4 linked regions of the Homo sapiens genome follow. The protein of the gene in region 2 interacts with the protein of the main gene of each other region in a biochemical or structural test. Each region holds a gene or a part of one and is shown on either strand. Other genes may lie near its edges.

Region 1 (4,205 bases), on a different chromosome or scaffold from region 2:
AAACCACAAAGTCAGTTTTACTTGGTTAAGGTGTTGACAAGTCAAACTGAAAAGCAGCATAGACCCCAAAGACCTATGCCAGCAAAAACAGAAAAAGTATTCATATTGCTATTTAGAAAGCCCCATTTACTCAAAGATAAAGATTCCATTCAAAAAACCCAACACATCACTGAGAGGAAGGACACAGCACCTTGGACAAAAGGCTCAATGGCCTTGAGCCACCCAAGTTCAAGCCAGTGAGGTGGGTAGCGTTAACATCCAAATACCAGTACCAGCGTTGGTTTCACCCCCCATCTCTCCTGAGACAGCTTATACCCCATAAAAACACTAGGTCAACTGACATAATCCTAGCACAATCAACCCAGGAGAGCAAATGAAGTTCCATGTGTCAATTTTTAAACCTTTTTAAAGTAACTGGATAAATCAAGTATGGCACCACTACTCAGTATTTCCAAAGGCAATTACAACATTTAACGCCACAGTAAAAAATTCTTAAAGCTTTGAAATGTGTAGATCACTCGTTCTTACCTTGTTTAGCCTGCCTGTGAGGTTCACAACAATTTTCCCAGCTCTGTGGTCATCAATGATTTCAAATTCGCCAATGTAACCTACAAAAGATAACTGACTGGATTAAATAAAAGACATCAACTTGAGAGCTAAACCTCTGTGCTCTAGCCTACTCAATTCTTCACTCTCCCATCACCTCAGTGACTGCTTCTCCAAAAAGTTGGGGGGAAGACAGTTGCTCTGTATCAGAACTAATTTTTACAACCTAACATATAAGAATTGGGAGACAATACCCAAAACAATCCACCTTGCAATTCTGAAAGAAACTATTTTCCCCTTGACCCTTCCTTCACTGCTTCCCATTCCCAAAGACTACTTTGTGCCAAAGAAGTGCAATAATCCAATCTTTCCTCTCAAAGAGCTCTGAGAAGATCTCAAGAGTCCTTTCTTTCTTTTTTTTTTTTTTGAGATGGAGTCTTGCACTGTCGCCCAGGCTGGAGTGCAGTGGCCGATCTCGGCTCACTGCAACCTCCACCTGCTGGGTTCAAACAATTCTCCCTGCCTCAGCCTCCAAAGAGCTGGGACTACAGGCGCCTGCCACCACGACCGGCTGATTTTTGTTTTTGTTTTTTGTTTTTTTAGTAGAGACGGGGTTTTGCCATGTTGGCCAGGCTGGTCTCGAAATGAGCTCAGGAGTCCTTTCAATGACTTAGATTCATTTAGCTCCCAAACACCTAGCAGAGCTCCTTTTTCCAGCAGTCCTACTCTAAGTGACTCTTCAGCAGTTTCAGACTATCCCCTCCTCCACAGCCCACAGGTCAATTGCATTCGTTCTCAGGTATGACAGACATACTTTGGTCCCCCATAATTAATTTCTACAGGACTGATTTCTTAGAGAGTCTCACATGAAAACATAAAACACAGCGGCAGCAGACTTACCATGCTTCATCATCACAGTGAGAAACCGGACGATGACTTTGGAGCACGGCCTAATAAGCACCTGGCGTTTGCCTCTCTTTTCGGCATTGTTGATACTCTTGAGAGCATCTGCCAGGACATTCATGCGCACCATTGTGGCTGTTCAAGGAAGACAAAACAGGAGGTTTTACTGGCATTGCCAACATCAACAGACACCAACCATTACACTGCGGAAGTATCCTTTCCTTTCTGGCCCCACCTTGGCGAAGTTTTCTCAAGTCTAAGCAGGCTGCTTCTCCATTTCCCACCACCCAGGAAAATTCCTATTTACTACGGTTGTTGAAAACAGGTTATCGGGACGTCAGCCTGCACATTTTGAAACTCATTCATTCACTAACCACTCTTCTTCGAATCGTGCCACACACCAACGTCTGGAGATAATAAAATGTGGGACAAAATCCACTTGACACAAGACAACGTGAGAACTGGCAGAAACTGCCAGCTACCGGAAGGAAAACATCGGGTATAGTCGATCAGTGATTCAGAACAGAAGCAGAGTATCATCGGCAACATTTTCCAAATTGCTGAAAATCAGCAGATTCCATACTATTAACATTGTACTTTAAATCAGTTCACTCTCACCTACAATGAACACATCTAACTATTAAACATCCATCTTCGTGCCATTTAAAATTGCGTCCAACAGCAAGAGCCACAGTGGCAAACAGAAACATTTTACATGCTTGTCAGACTGGACTCTCTTCTAATGGGCAAGAACCGCACACTACACTGAAGTTTTGAAAGACCAAAGTGCCAATAGTAAAGAGTAGAACTTAAATTCCTTAAGTTCAAAAGTGTCTAAAGAAAAACTCTGCGGCCCAGAAGATCCAAGTTGGCACCCAGCAAACTGCCAACCCCGGCACGATGCAGCTTTTACCTGCTGGGTGGCCTCAGCCTCCCAAGCTCCCAGCGCGGCCGCAGCAGTGAGAAGCTGCACGGCCCACCAGCCCCGATGTTGCCCGCCGCCCGGGGCCAAGGCGCTGCCTCAGCACTAAAGGGAGATCCAGACGCTGCGGCCCGAACCGGAGCTACCGCCTAGCTGGGCAGTCGAAGGCTCCGGCTCCCGCCCGCGCTGCGGCCTGCACCCCACGGACCGGGATCCCCTGAGTGCACAGTCTGGGGCGCCCAGCCATGGCTCTCCTCTATGCCTGTCCAGGAACCGGCAAGGCCAGGATCCTCGGCCAAGGTGGGGACCAGCCTCCTCGCAGGACACCGAGACCGAACCTTAGATTGCAGGATGGCGCCGATGGCAGACGGATGAAATTGGAGCTCTCAGAGAGTGCTACTCACCGGCGCGGAAAGATGGCGGAAAGAGGACGGGAGGGGAGAGCGCACGGAGTTATGGGAAGCGGGAGAGCTATCGCGAGACTTTCAAAGGCCCGGCAAAAACAAGGACCGCCTAGGAGAAGGACGAGGGTGAGGGAAAGGCGGAGCCTCCTCAGGGGTTGGCAGTTGAGAGTCGATGGAATCGACCTCCCCCGGTGGGGCCTGGGAGAGGCAAGGTGAGCCGTTCGTTGGAGGTTCGTCTACATTTTTTTTTTTTTTTTGAGACAGTTTCGCTCTTGTAGCCCAGACTGGAGTGCAGTGGCGTGATCTCGGCTCACTGCAACCTGCGCCTCCCGGGTTCAAGTGATTCTCCTGCCTCAGCCTCCTGAGTAGCTGGAACTACAGAGATGCGCCACCACGCCCGGCTAATTTTTGTATTTTTAGTAGAGACGAGGTTTCCCCAAGTTGGCGAAGATGTTCTTGATCTCCTGACCTTGCGATCCGCCCGCCTCGGCCTCCGAAAGTGCTGGGATTACAGGCGGGAGCCACCGCGCGGGCCTTAATTTTTATTTTAGTTTACTTTTGATAAGGAGTCTCGCTCTGTCGCCCAGGCTGGAGTCCAGTGGCGCGATCTTGGCGCACTGCAGCCTCCGCCTCCCGGGTTCAAGCGGTTCTCCTGCCCCAGCCTCCAGAGTACCTGGGATTACAGGCGCCCGCCATCACACCCGGCTAATTTTTGTATTTTTAGTAGAGACGGGGTTTCACCATGTTGGCCAGGCTCGTCTCAAACCCCTGACATCAAGTGATCTGCCCACCTCGGCCTCCCAAAGTGTTGGGATTACAGGCGTGAGCCACCACACCCGGCTAAAAATTTTTTTTTAATTAAAAAGTTAAGTTCAGACAAAAGTCACCCAACAGTTGTTTACTGAGCACCCATGTACCAGACGCTAGCAAGGCCCTGGGGTACGAGGTGCCCACACAGGCACCATTTAGCCAGTTCTGTCCCTGCCGGTTCTTCCAGCTTCGTCCTCTCTCACACGTCAATGCCCCTGCTCATTCGTTGCATTTCCTCTTCCCTCTAGCATGGTACCTGGATATTTGCTAAATAAAACTTAAACCTTTTATTTTTGTTCTTTTTTAAAATTTTTCCTAGACAGGGTCCTGCTCTGTTGCCCAGGCTAGAGTGCAGGGGTACACTCAGCTCAATGCAACCTCAAACTCATGGACTCCAGTGAACCTCCTGCCCAGGTCTCCCAAAGTGGTGGGATTACAGGTAGGGTACCTTATAGACATCTAAGGACCACACAGGGTACTTCATTAATCAGATTCATAAATCCAATCATAAATATTATATTGGCTAAGTTATAAAGAAAGTGAGACATGAAGATTCCAGCTTTTTTTATTTTTTCCCCTTTTACACAAAACAAAGTAGAAGAAATAATACAGGATTAAAA
Region 2 (3,500 bases):
ACAATTCTTGCAGGCCAATGATACCCAGTTTTTCATTAAACTTGCACTGAAATAAAACATACATCTGAAAGTGCACAAATCATTAAGTGTAGAACTCAGTGAATATTCAGAAAAAATGTACTCATAAACTAGCAGCCATATCAACTAACAGAATTACTAGCACCACCAGATGAGCCCTTCAGGCTACCTCCCAGCCTCTACGCCCCCCAAGATAATGATGGACCTGGACTCCTAACGTACAGACAAGTTGTGCCTGTCTCTGAACGCTACGTAAGTGGAAATGTTTGTGCCCTGTGTCCACCTTCCTTCACCCAACATTATGCTTTTGAGCTGCATCCTTACTGTTGAATGTAGCTGTAGTTTGTTAACTCTCACTGTTAATGCACATTTGAGTGGCTTCCAGGTTTTGGCTACTAGGAATAATGTTGCTATGAATATTCTGATGCACATCTTTTGGTTTTATTTATATTTATATATTTATATATTTATATATTTTTATATATATATATATATATATATATATATATATATATATATATATCTGGGTATGCTAAGCTTTAGTAGACACTGTCAGTTTTCCAAAGTGTTACGTTCCAAAGTCCCCATCAACTGTGTCAGAAAGTTCCAACTGGTGTATATTCTTGCCATTCCATGTTAGCTATTTTGGTAGATGTGTAGTGGTACCACATTATGGCTATAATTTACATTTCCCTGATGACTAACAAAATAGGTGCCTTTCATGAATTTATCTTTTGGATAGCCTTTTTTGTGTAGGAAGTGTTCCAGTCTTTCGCCCATTTTTGTTTGTCTGTTTCTTTAAATGATTTCTAGTTCTTTATACATCCTAGATTTGAGTCCTTTGATTCACACATGTATTGCAAATATCTTCCCCAGCTCAGTATCTTGCCCTAAATGCTATCTTCTGATGAACAGAAGTTCTTGGTTTTATATATAGTCCATTTAACAAATCTTTTCCTTTACACTGAGTATTTTGCCTCAATTAAGCCTTAGGTCTTTACACTGAGTATTTTGCTTCCTATTAAGCCTTAGGTCTTTTGGTATTTTGGTTATGTGGTAATTTTGCCGGAGATGAATTTCAACTAATGAAAGAGGGATACTTTCTGGGTGACTTTACAGTTATGGTGTAACTTCCAATTTCAGTTCATGTCTTCAAGTGTTGGCTGGTGTCCAGACGGAGAGATATAATAGGAACCAGGAACTCAAAAAAAGAGCAAAGCCAGATGTCTACAGATCTGTATAAGGTACTAGTAGAACCTAGGTGGCTGCAAAAGCCATGGGGAATAGATAACCAGGGAGAGGCAGTAGAACAAGAAGAGGGCTCAAAGAAATCCTGAGAAACATCAATATTTAAGATATGGCCAGAAATAACTATGCAGAAGTAGTCAGAGGGCTAAAAAGAAAACCAGTAGAGAAGCAGGGATCCCACAAGGAACAGAAGTGTCAGCTGCTGTGGACAGGCAGAGTGGAACAAGGATAAAAAGGGGCTCTTGGATTTGAGGAGGTAGCTATTAACCCTAGACAATGTAGCTATTAACCCTACTACCAAAGTTTTAGCTATTAACCCTAAGAGGTAGCTATTAACCCTACTACCAAAGTCACAGTAGGAGGTGAAAGACAACAGCAGATCTGAGACGGCCAGACAGGAACAAACATCTGTTATCAATGAGAAACATAGTACACAGCAGTTAAAAGCACTGGTCATAGGCCTAATGAATTCTGAGAGGCTGAACTTTAAAACCACGTACTTTTGGGCTGGGTGCAGTGGCTCACACCTGTAATCCCAGTACTTTGGGAGGCCAAGGTGAGCAGATCACCTGACGTCAGGAGTTCGAGACCAGCTTGGCTAACATGGTGAAACCCTGTTTCTACTAAAAATACAAAAAATTAGCTGGGCATGGTGGTATGCGCCTGTAATCCAGCTACTTGGGAGGCTGAGGCAGGAGAATCGCTTGAACCCGGGAGGCAGAGGTTGCAGTGAGCTGAGATGGTGCCATTGCACTCCAAACTTGGGCAACAAGAACGAAACTCTGTTTCAAAAATATACATATTTTTTTCTATTGCTTCAATTAATTCTTCATAACAATTCTCATCTTACTGAATAAACTTCTAAAGCTAGTAGAAAATAGTTGCTTAGAGAATTTAATGCTAAGCAGCTTTAATCTGTATTTCAAATAGTCAATGCCTATGCAGCCACCAACAATTTGTACACACACACACACATACACACACACAATGACTGCAAAGATAATTTAGTTCCAGAGCTTACGAATTTTCCCAAAAAGTTTTCCAAAAGACAACCATCCAAGACAGTAATGTAAATGAAATACTGCCCAGAGTACCTGAATGAAGATGTCTTTTCTTAAACTGATGCTTGGAAAGCCTGCCAAATACGCTCTTTAAAGACACGTGAGAGCCATTCTACAAATGCGATTAATGATGTTGGGCTTCCAACATGTAATTTAATCATGATGCTAGTTGTCTTTATCAAATTAACAAAATAAGAATGTTTAAGATTTCCAGTGTATTAAATGTAATAATAAATGTGTACCAGCAGCCTCCTATGAACTGAGTTAAAAGTTTACTTTAATTCTCTTTGAGAGGGATTTGGTTCTGCAGGTGTAGAGAATAAAATTTTCCTAAATCTGTTTTGACACTAAGGCAAAGAAACGTATTTTTCTCAAAACCCAGGCAAAGACTAAAGAGACACCCTCCACTGACTACAGGCATCAGGCATCAATTCAAGAACACAGAGAAACTGCTCCTAGCATCCTCACCTGCATCCTCCTCCAGACTGGCGTGATCTAGTTCAATTTTCACCTCTGCTCCTCCAAGGATGGCCTGGAGATGCTTTTGTTTTGCAGTGATCTTTTTTAGCTGTTGTTCCTTGAATGGTAAATATAGAAGACAGAAAACAGCAATGAAGTGATTTATTGTTAAATACAAAAGATAGCATTATGAAATTTTAAACTTAAATCCAAAGTAAAATAAAAATAATATACATTACATAAAAATTCCATACATTACTATTACTAGAGAGCCCTATGTGAGCAACTACCACTTTTCTAGGAGTAAAGGGGCCGTGAATATTCCCAGCAGACAGGCATGCCTGCACCCCCATGCTCTCCTGAGGACGGCAGACTGCCTTCTATGTGCCCGAGCCCTTAAATACATGGGCACTGACCTGAAAGGTGGACTTGTTCTACTTGGTTTCCCCCTTACACACTGGGCAAATCCCTAAACTACTCTGTATTTCTGATTCAGAACCAATGGGCTATGGAAGTCAACAGGCCATAAGATAAGAAATAAAAACACAAATGTTCAATTGAAAAAGTTAGTCTCCTTTGATAACCTACTATATTTATGACTGTCCTTTTAGTATTCTACCTAATCAAAAAGCTTTAAGAAAAAAATATATCTTGCCATGCCTCTCCACCCTGGCCACGCCAGACTCCTCTTTGTCTTGTTCCCTTCCACATCAC
Region 3 (3,500 bases), on a different chromosome or scaffold from region 2:
CTCAGCCCTGACCTCTTCGCTGCAGCGTGAGGAGGGATGCAGCAGCTCCCCAGCCTCCACGTGCGCCGTGGCCAGGCCCCAGGCCCCTTACCGTAGTGCTTGTCCTGTTTGTAGGTCGGGCTGTAGCCAGGCTCACAGATCTTGCTACACTTGGGGGTATCTCCCTCCCCCGTGCATGGGGGCCGGGAGCCGTTGACGTGGTGCTCACAGGGAGGGATGGAGTACGGTCTGCACCCTGATGGGACGCGGGAGAAAGCGGAGTCAACCTACAGCCCCCACGGAGAAGACCTGGGGCAAGGCAAGCCTCGTGCCTGCAGCATGGACGCCAGGCAGGTCCTGCCAGAGGCCTGTGCACCTGGCTAGCACCTCTCAGCAGCCCCTCTGTCTCAACCCCCAGTTTATAAAGGCAAATAAAGCCATGATGGTTAATTGCTCAAACAATCCATCTGGCCAGAAAGTGGCCAAGGGGACACACTTACCTACATGGGATTCATAGAGGCCACCAGAAACCAGGCCTTTTCTTGTCCAGAAGTTCCAAGCTTCAGCAGGATAGCCACCATTACAGCTGAAAAGACAGCCTCTAATGAAAACCTCTGAGAGAAGCACCACCAGCTCTCCAGACCACTGTGTGCTACCCAAGTGCCCGAGGCCACTCGTGGACCCACCCCCAGCTGCAGCAAGTGGTGCGAGCAGACCTCCCAGACCCCAAACCCTCCAAGGGACGCTCCCTAGATAAGCACAGCTTGCAGGGAATAACCGCCAGCCCCACCCCTGCCCACAAAGATCCGGGAGAAGACAGGAGGCTCTCCTGTTCATGTCCATACCAGACCAGGCTACGAGTGCCCTTCCGGGTAGAACACTGATTCTCAACTGAGCAGACGCTAAACTTCCCTAAGGTACTTAAAAACACCACCAGTTCTCTGAAATGAGAATCGCCAGTGATTCCCATTTAACTAGTTAGGGGAGAAGCCCATGCATTTTTTTAAGCCCTCAGGCATTTCGGATCTGCAGCCGCCAGTGAACACCGCTACTGCGGAACCAAGGCGAGGCTGCAGGCAGCTGGAGCAGAAAGTTCTGTGCCACCACCTTGTTGTTAAGGTGGAGCCATCCCCGCTAACTACACATAAGGAAATGCCCCAAACTGGTTCCCCAAGCAGGAAAAAGGAACATGCGATGACACAAACCAGACCAGGGGCCAGACATTCCACCACATTTTCTGAAACTGACTGTTTTGCTGGGATGCCACCCCTCAGACAGCTCTGCCGGGCCAGCCTTGGTTCAGGCACCTCCCAGGAAGCAGCAGCCTTGCCAGGCCCTGCCTGCCAGACTCTCGGAGTCTCCCCGAAACACTTCTGACTCGCAGCAGTCCCAGGAAGTCCTCAAAGTCCCCTCCACTGAGAAGCTGGGGCCCAGGGTCTCTCAGCACTAAACCCGCTGTGGAAGCACAGCCTGACTCACCCGTCCCCACACATGCTGCCACAGCATGTGAGCAGGTCCTCCGCCGACACCTCCACGCTGACGTGCGCATTGGTGTGGATGCAGATCCGGTCAGAGATGGCTTCCACAGCCCCGAAGGCCTGCAGGAACGAGCCCCACCGGGTGAGGCTGCCATGTCCGGGCTGGGCCCTCTGCAGCAGTCCCCTCAAAGGGCCACAGGGGCACCTCAGACCTTGTAGGCAACTGATCTCTCAACACCAGGGGACGCTCCTGGGGCTCAAACTCAGCTTTTATTTTCTTTGGTAGAAATGGGGTCTTGCTACGTTGGCCAGACTGGTCTTGAACTCCCGGGTTCAAGTGATTTGCCCACCTTGGCCTCCCAAAGTGCTGGGATTAGAGGCGTGATGAGCCACTTGCCCCACTCTCCTGCCTCAACGATTTGCCCAACTCAGCTTTTAAAGCAAGAGAAGCACCCCCGTGAACCTCTGCCTGGAAACTGGGTTCATTTCTGAAATCTGCAAAATGTGTAGTATTAGTTTGTATGTGTGTGTGTGGTTTTTTTTTTTTTTCCTGGAGGCGGAGTTTCACTTTTGTTGCCCAGGCTGGAATGCAGTGGCGCAATCTCAGCTCACTGCAACCTACGCCTCCTGGGTTCAAGCAATTCTCCTGCCTCAGCCTCTATAGTAGCTGGGATTATAGGTGCCTGCCACCAGGCCCAGCTAAGTTTTGTCTTTTTAGTAGAGACAGGGTTTCACCATGTTGGCCAGGTTGGTCTCAAACTCCTGACCTCAGGTGATCCGCCTGCCTCAGCCTCCCAAAGTGTTGAGATTACAGGCGTGAGCTACCGTACCTGGCTGTGTTTTTTTCTTAACAAAAAACACAGCTCACCCAGAAAATAAATACTGTTGTGATCCACTTGTATGAGGTCCCTAGGAGTCAAATTCATAGAGACAGAAAGTAGAGTGGGGCTTACCAGGGGCTACAATATTGGTGTTAATGGGGACAGAGTTTCTGTCTTGCGAGCTGAAAAAGAGTTCGGGGGACAGATGGTGGTGGTGGCTGAGCAACACTGTGAATGTACTTAATGCTACAGAACTGTACACTTGAAAATAGTTGCTGGGCACGGTGGCTCACGCCTGTAATCCCAGCATTTTGCGAGGCCGAGGAAGGCAGATCAACAGGTGAGGCGTTTGAGACCAGGCTGTCCAACATGGCAAAACCCCATCTCTACTAAAAATACAAAAATTAGCTGGGCGTGGTGGCACATGCCTGTAGTCTTAGCTACTGGGGAGACTGAGGCAGGAGAATTGCTTGAACCCAGGAGGCAGAGGTTGCAGTGAGCCAATATCCCACCACTGCACTCCAGCCTGGGTGACAGAGCAAGACTCCATCTCCAAAAAAAAAAAAAAAAAAAAAAGAAAGAAAAAGAAAACAAAAGAAGATTGCTAAGATTATTACATTTCTGTTACGTGTATTTTACCACAATTAAATGACAAAATTAAGACAGCTCACTGACACTAAAGGGATGCTTTCTTGAAGCAGAGTAGCAGTGAGAGCTCCTGGTATTTGCGGACGGGCCAGCATGTCAGGGAAAGGGAGCTGCTTCGCCACCTGTACACGTGGACTTGCAATCTGCTGGATGCTCTGCCCGCCACTCCACCTAATCCTCGCCATCATTCATGGCCAGAGGGATTGTGATTTTTGTACTGATGGAAACTGGGACTCAGAAAGTTTCTATAACTTGCCTTGTCAGAGTTGTCCCCACCCCGAATCCCCCAAGACTCTCCAGTGTTGCTCCCACTTTCTCTCCAGCGCTTCCCCGCCAGCCAGCAGGGCCTTACCCAGCAGGAGCCACAGGAGCCCTGGTCTCTGATCTCTTTGATGGTGGGACACTGTGGCCATTGTTCCCGTGCATCGAAGCTTGCAGGCAGCTTCAGGTCCTCGGTAAACATAACTCTGGATAAAGGAAGGTCTTCATTACAAGCTCTGATCCCACAACTCCCTCCCCAATCCCTGCAAAGGCCACTTTGGCTGGGCCACACTCCCCTAACAAGGAAATGAGC
Region 4 (2,920 bases), on a different chromosome or scaffold from region 2:
CAGCCTGGGCAACAGAGTGAGACTCCATCTGAAAAAAAAAAAAGAAAAAAAAGAAAGAAAAGAAAATGAAGATATTACTGTGCCAATGATATGAGTCAGTATTTGTAAAGTGGTTAGAACAGTTCCTGGCAGTTTGTGCTTTATAAATGTTAGTTCTAATGGGGAAATGGGGGCACAGAGAGGTTATGTGACCTGCCCCAAAGCCACACAGCTTATGAGCAGGGATTTGCCACCAGGTCAGTCTCTGACTGCCAAGCTGTGCTCTTTCTGTTCCCAGAGCTAGCCTGTACATTGAAGGTAGACAGCAGTGTAGCCTCTGCCCAGTGGAAGCCCCTCAATCCACACGGACCTCATCTGTGGCCTTCCATTTCTTATTCCTTAGAAGTTCCACCTGGTGCCAAGCATCAACACCATGAGTGGCAGTCAGGAGCTGCAGTGGATGGTACAGCCTCATTTCCTGGGGCCCAGCAGTTACCCCAGGCCTCTGACCTACCCTCAGTACAGCCCCCCACAACCCCGGCCAGGAGTCATCCGGGCCCTGGGGCCGCCTCCAGGGGTACGTCGAAGGCCTTGTGAACAGGTAAGGCACAGAGGCATTGCAGTGGTTCCGACCCCGCCCAGGAGTGCTAGGGTGCAGAGAAGCTCCTGCCAGAAAGGAGAGCACAGGCTTAGGAGGGGGTAAGGTAGGCTACAGGTGACTACTGCCCAAGGCTGAAAGTGATAGGAGCCCCACGGGAGGCCCAGAGGGTACAACAGTCACTTCCAGATCAGGGAAAGCTTCCTGGAAAAGGTGGCATATTAGCCTAGAAGGATGGGTAGGACTGGCAGAGGCAGAGAGGAAGGAAAGGACATTCCAGGTAGCGGGGGTGGCAGGAGCAAGGATGGAGGCGGAGGCAAGAACATGTAAGGTGCGCACACGGAATGGTGAGGGGGTCTCCACCTGCTGACATGCATAGAGGGGGCGCTTATGTTGTCTGGGAGAGAACAGGAACAAGAGGGTTCCCTTCAGCTACTCCCTCAGTCTCAGTTTCCCTGTCTCATTTAATCCTCACAAAATCTCTCTGGGGAATGTACTCTGGTTTTCCCCATCTTCCACCAAAGAAATGAAGGCACAGAAGGGTAGTCACTTGCCCAAGATCACACAAGTAGTGAGTAATGACACAGGACTGGCCTTGGCCCCAGGTCTATACAACTCTAAAGTCAGATCCTAACCACCAAACCAGGGCCAGGTGCAGTAGCTCATGCCTGTAATCCCAGCACTTTGAGAGACCTAGGCAGGAGGATCACTTGAGGCCAGGAGTTCAAGACTAGGTTGGGCAACATAGAGAGACCCTGTCTCTACCGAAAAAACAAAATAAAATAAAACCCCCAAAACTAATCACCAAGCCACGCTGTCTCACTGGAAGCTAACAGAAGGCTCAAAGTAGAGGGAACTGACAATTCTTGGCTCCCCAAAGCCCTTACCAAAATAAGTGAGTAAGAGATGGCGAGTCTTTAAAGGAGTGGCTCATCTTTCCTCTCCCTGGGGCATTTTGGTGTGGGAGACTACAGGGGATGAGGTTAAAAAGCTTGGTCGGCAGGTAGAGGATGGGGAGAGAGGTTAGGGCCCTGGGAAAGGTGAGAGATCAGCCAGAGACAGGTTTCCCAGAACAGAATGTCTGGCCTTTGTGGTGAGGAGGGACTGTGGTATGAGCCGCAGAAGCGGGCCAGGGGTAAACCCTCCTGTGCGTCCTTCCTTCAGCCTGGTCCTGAGGGTGACCCTTTGATCCTGGGTTCTCCAGGTAGGGCTGTGAGCTGTGAGTTGGATCCTTTTGGTGAAATGGTCTCTCTCATCTGGCCTGTCACTCAATGTGGAATAGAGTGAGTGAGTTCTATGGGTTCTAAGTCCTGCTCTGGAACCATAAGTAAGTTATCCTCTCTGGGCTTCAGTTTTTCATGGAAAGTTGCGTTAAGAATCTAGTTTAAGGCCAGGCATGGTGGCTCACGCCTGTAATCCCAGCACTTTGGGAGGCCAAGGAAGGTGGATCATGAGGTCAGGAGATCGAGACCATCCTGGCTAACATGATGAAACCGTGTCTCTACTAAAAAATACAAAAAATTAGCTGGGCGTGGTGGAAGGCACCTGTAGTCGCAGCTACTCGGGAGGCTGAGGCAGGAGAATGGCGTGAACCCCGGAGGCGGAGCTTGCAGTGAGCCGAGATGGCACCACTGCACTCCAGCCTGGGCAACAGAGTGAGACTCCGTCTCAAAAAAAAAAAAAAAAAAGAATCTATGTTTTTTTAAAAAAGAGGCCAGCTGTGGTGACTCCCCCTGGTAATCCAAACATTCTAGGAGGCCAGTGCAGGAGGATCCCTTGAGCCCATGAGTTCCAGACCAGCCTGGGCAACACAGTGAGACCCCGTCACTACACAAAAAAAAAAAAGAAAAAAAAAGGCCGAGCACAGTGGCTCATGCCTGTAATCCCAGCACTTTGGGAGGCTGAGGAGGGTGGATCACCTGAGGTTAAGAGTTCAAGACCAGCCTGGCCAACATGGTGAAACCTCGTCTCTACTAAAAATACAAAAATTAGCCAGGTGTGGTGGTACATGCCTGTAATCCCAGCTACTTGGGAGGCTGAGGCACGAGAATCACTTGAACCCAGTAGGTGGAGGTTGCAGTGAGCCAAGATTGGGCCAATGCACTCCAGCCTGGGAAAGAGTGAGACTCTGTCTAAAAAAAATAAAATAAAATAAAATAAAATCTTTGCATGTTCTCAGTGAAAAACAAGAATCTACGTAAAGTACTTGGCTGGCACATAGTAGTTTTCCAATAAATTGCAACTTAATCAGCAGCACTCATTAGCCCCTCCTAGTGCTTACAGCTCATGGAAGAGGAGACTTGGTTGTCCACAGATCCAGAAGGATGAGGGTCCTGCAAAGAG

What was found. The genes of interacting proteins can lie anywhere in the genome.
Region 1: the proteins of ERCC6 (region 2) and RPS15A form a complex in vitro, tested with the Homo sapiens proteins (one large-scale study listed by BioGRID).
Region 3: the proteins of ERCC6 (region 2) and CTSB form a complex in vitro, tested with the Homo sapiens proteins (one large-scale study listed by BioGRID).
Region 4: the proteins of ERCC6 (region 2) and FOSL1 form a complex in vitro, tested with the Homo sapiens proteins (one large-scale study listed by BioGRID).

What each region holds. Positions count from the first base shown.
Region 1 is NC_000016.10:18,787,535-18,791,739, forward strand, and holds the start of RPS15A (small ribosomal subunit protein uS8), read right to left. Parts: upstream 2,801-4,205; 5' UTR 2,710-2,800; intron 1,585-2,709; 5' UTR 1,580-1,584; coding exon 1,447-1,579; intron 609-1,446; coding exon 529-608; intron 1-528.
Region 2 is NC_000010.11:49,525,622-49,529,121, forward strand, and holds part of ERCC6 (DNA excision repair protein ERCC-6), read right to left. Parts: intron 2,905-3,500; coding exon 2,796-2,904; intron 1-2,795. UniProt on the Homo sapiens protein: Involved in repair of DNA damage following UV irradiation, acting either in the absence of ERCC6 or synergistically with ERCC6. Involved in the regulation of gene expression.
Region 3 is NC_000008.11:11,847,588-11,851,087, forward strand, and holds part of CTSB (cathepsin B isoform 1 preproprotein), read right to left. Parts: intron 3,394-3,500; coding exon 3,279-3,393; intron 1,578-3,278; coding exon 1,459-1,577; intron 566-1,458; coding exon 480-565; intron 236-479; coding exon 92-235; intron 1-91. UniProt on the Homo sapiens protein: Thiol protease which is believed to participate in intracellular degradation and turnover of proteins. Cleaves matrix extracellular phosphoglycoprotein MEPE. Involved in the solubilization of cross-linked TG/thyroglobulin in the thyroid follicle lumen.
Region 4 is NC_000011.10:65,894,469-65,897,388, reverse strand, and holds part of FOSL1 (fos-related antigen 1), read left to right. Parts: intron 1-382; coding exon 383-580; intron 581-2,920.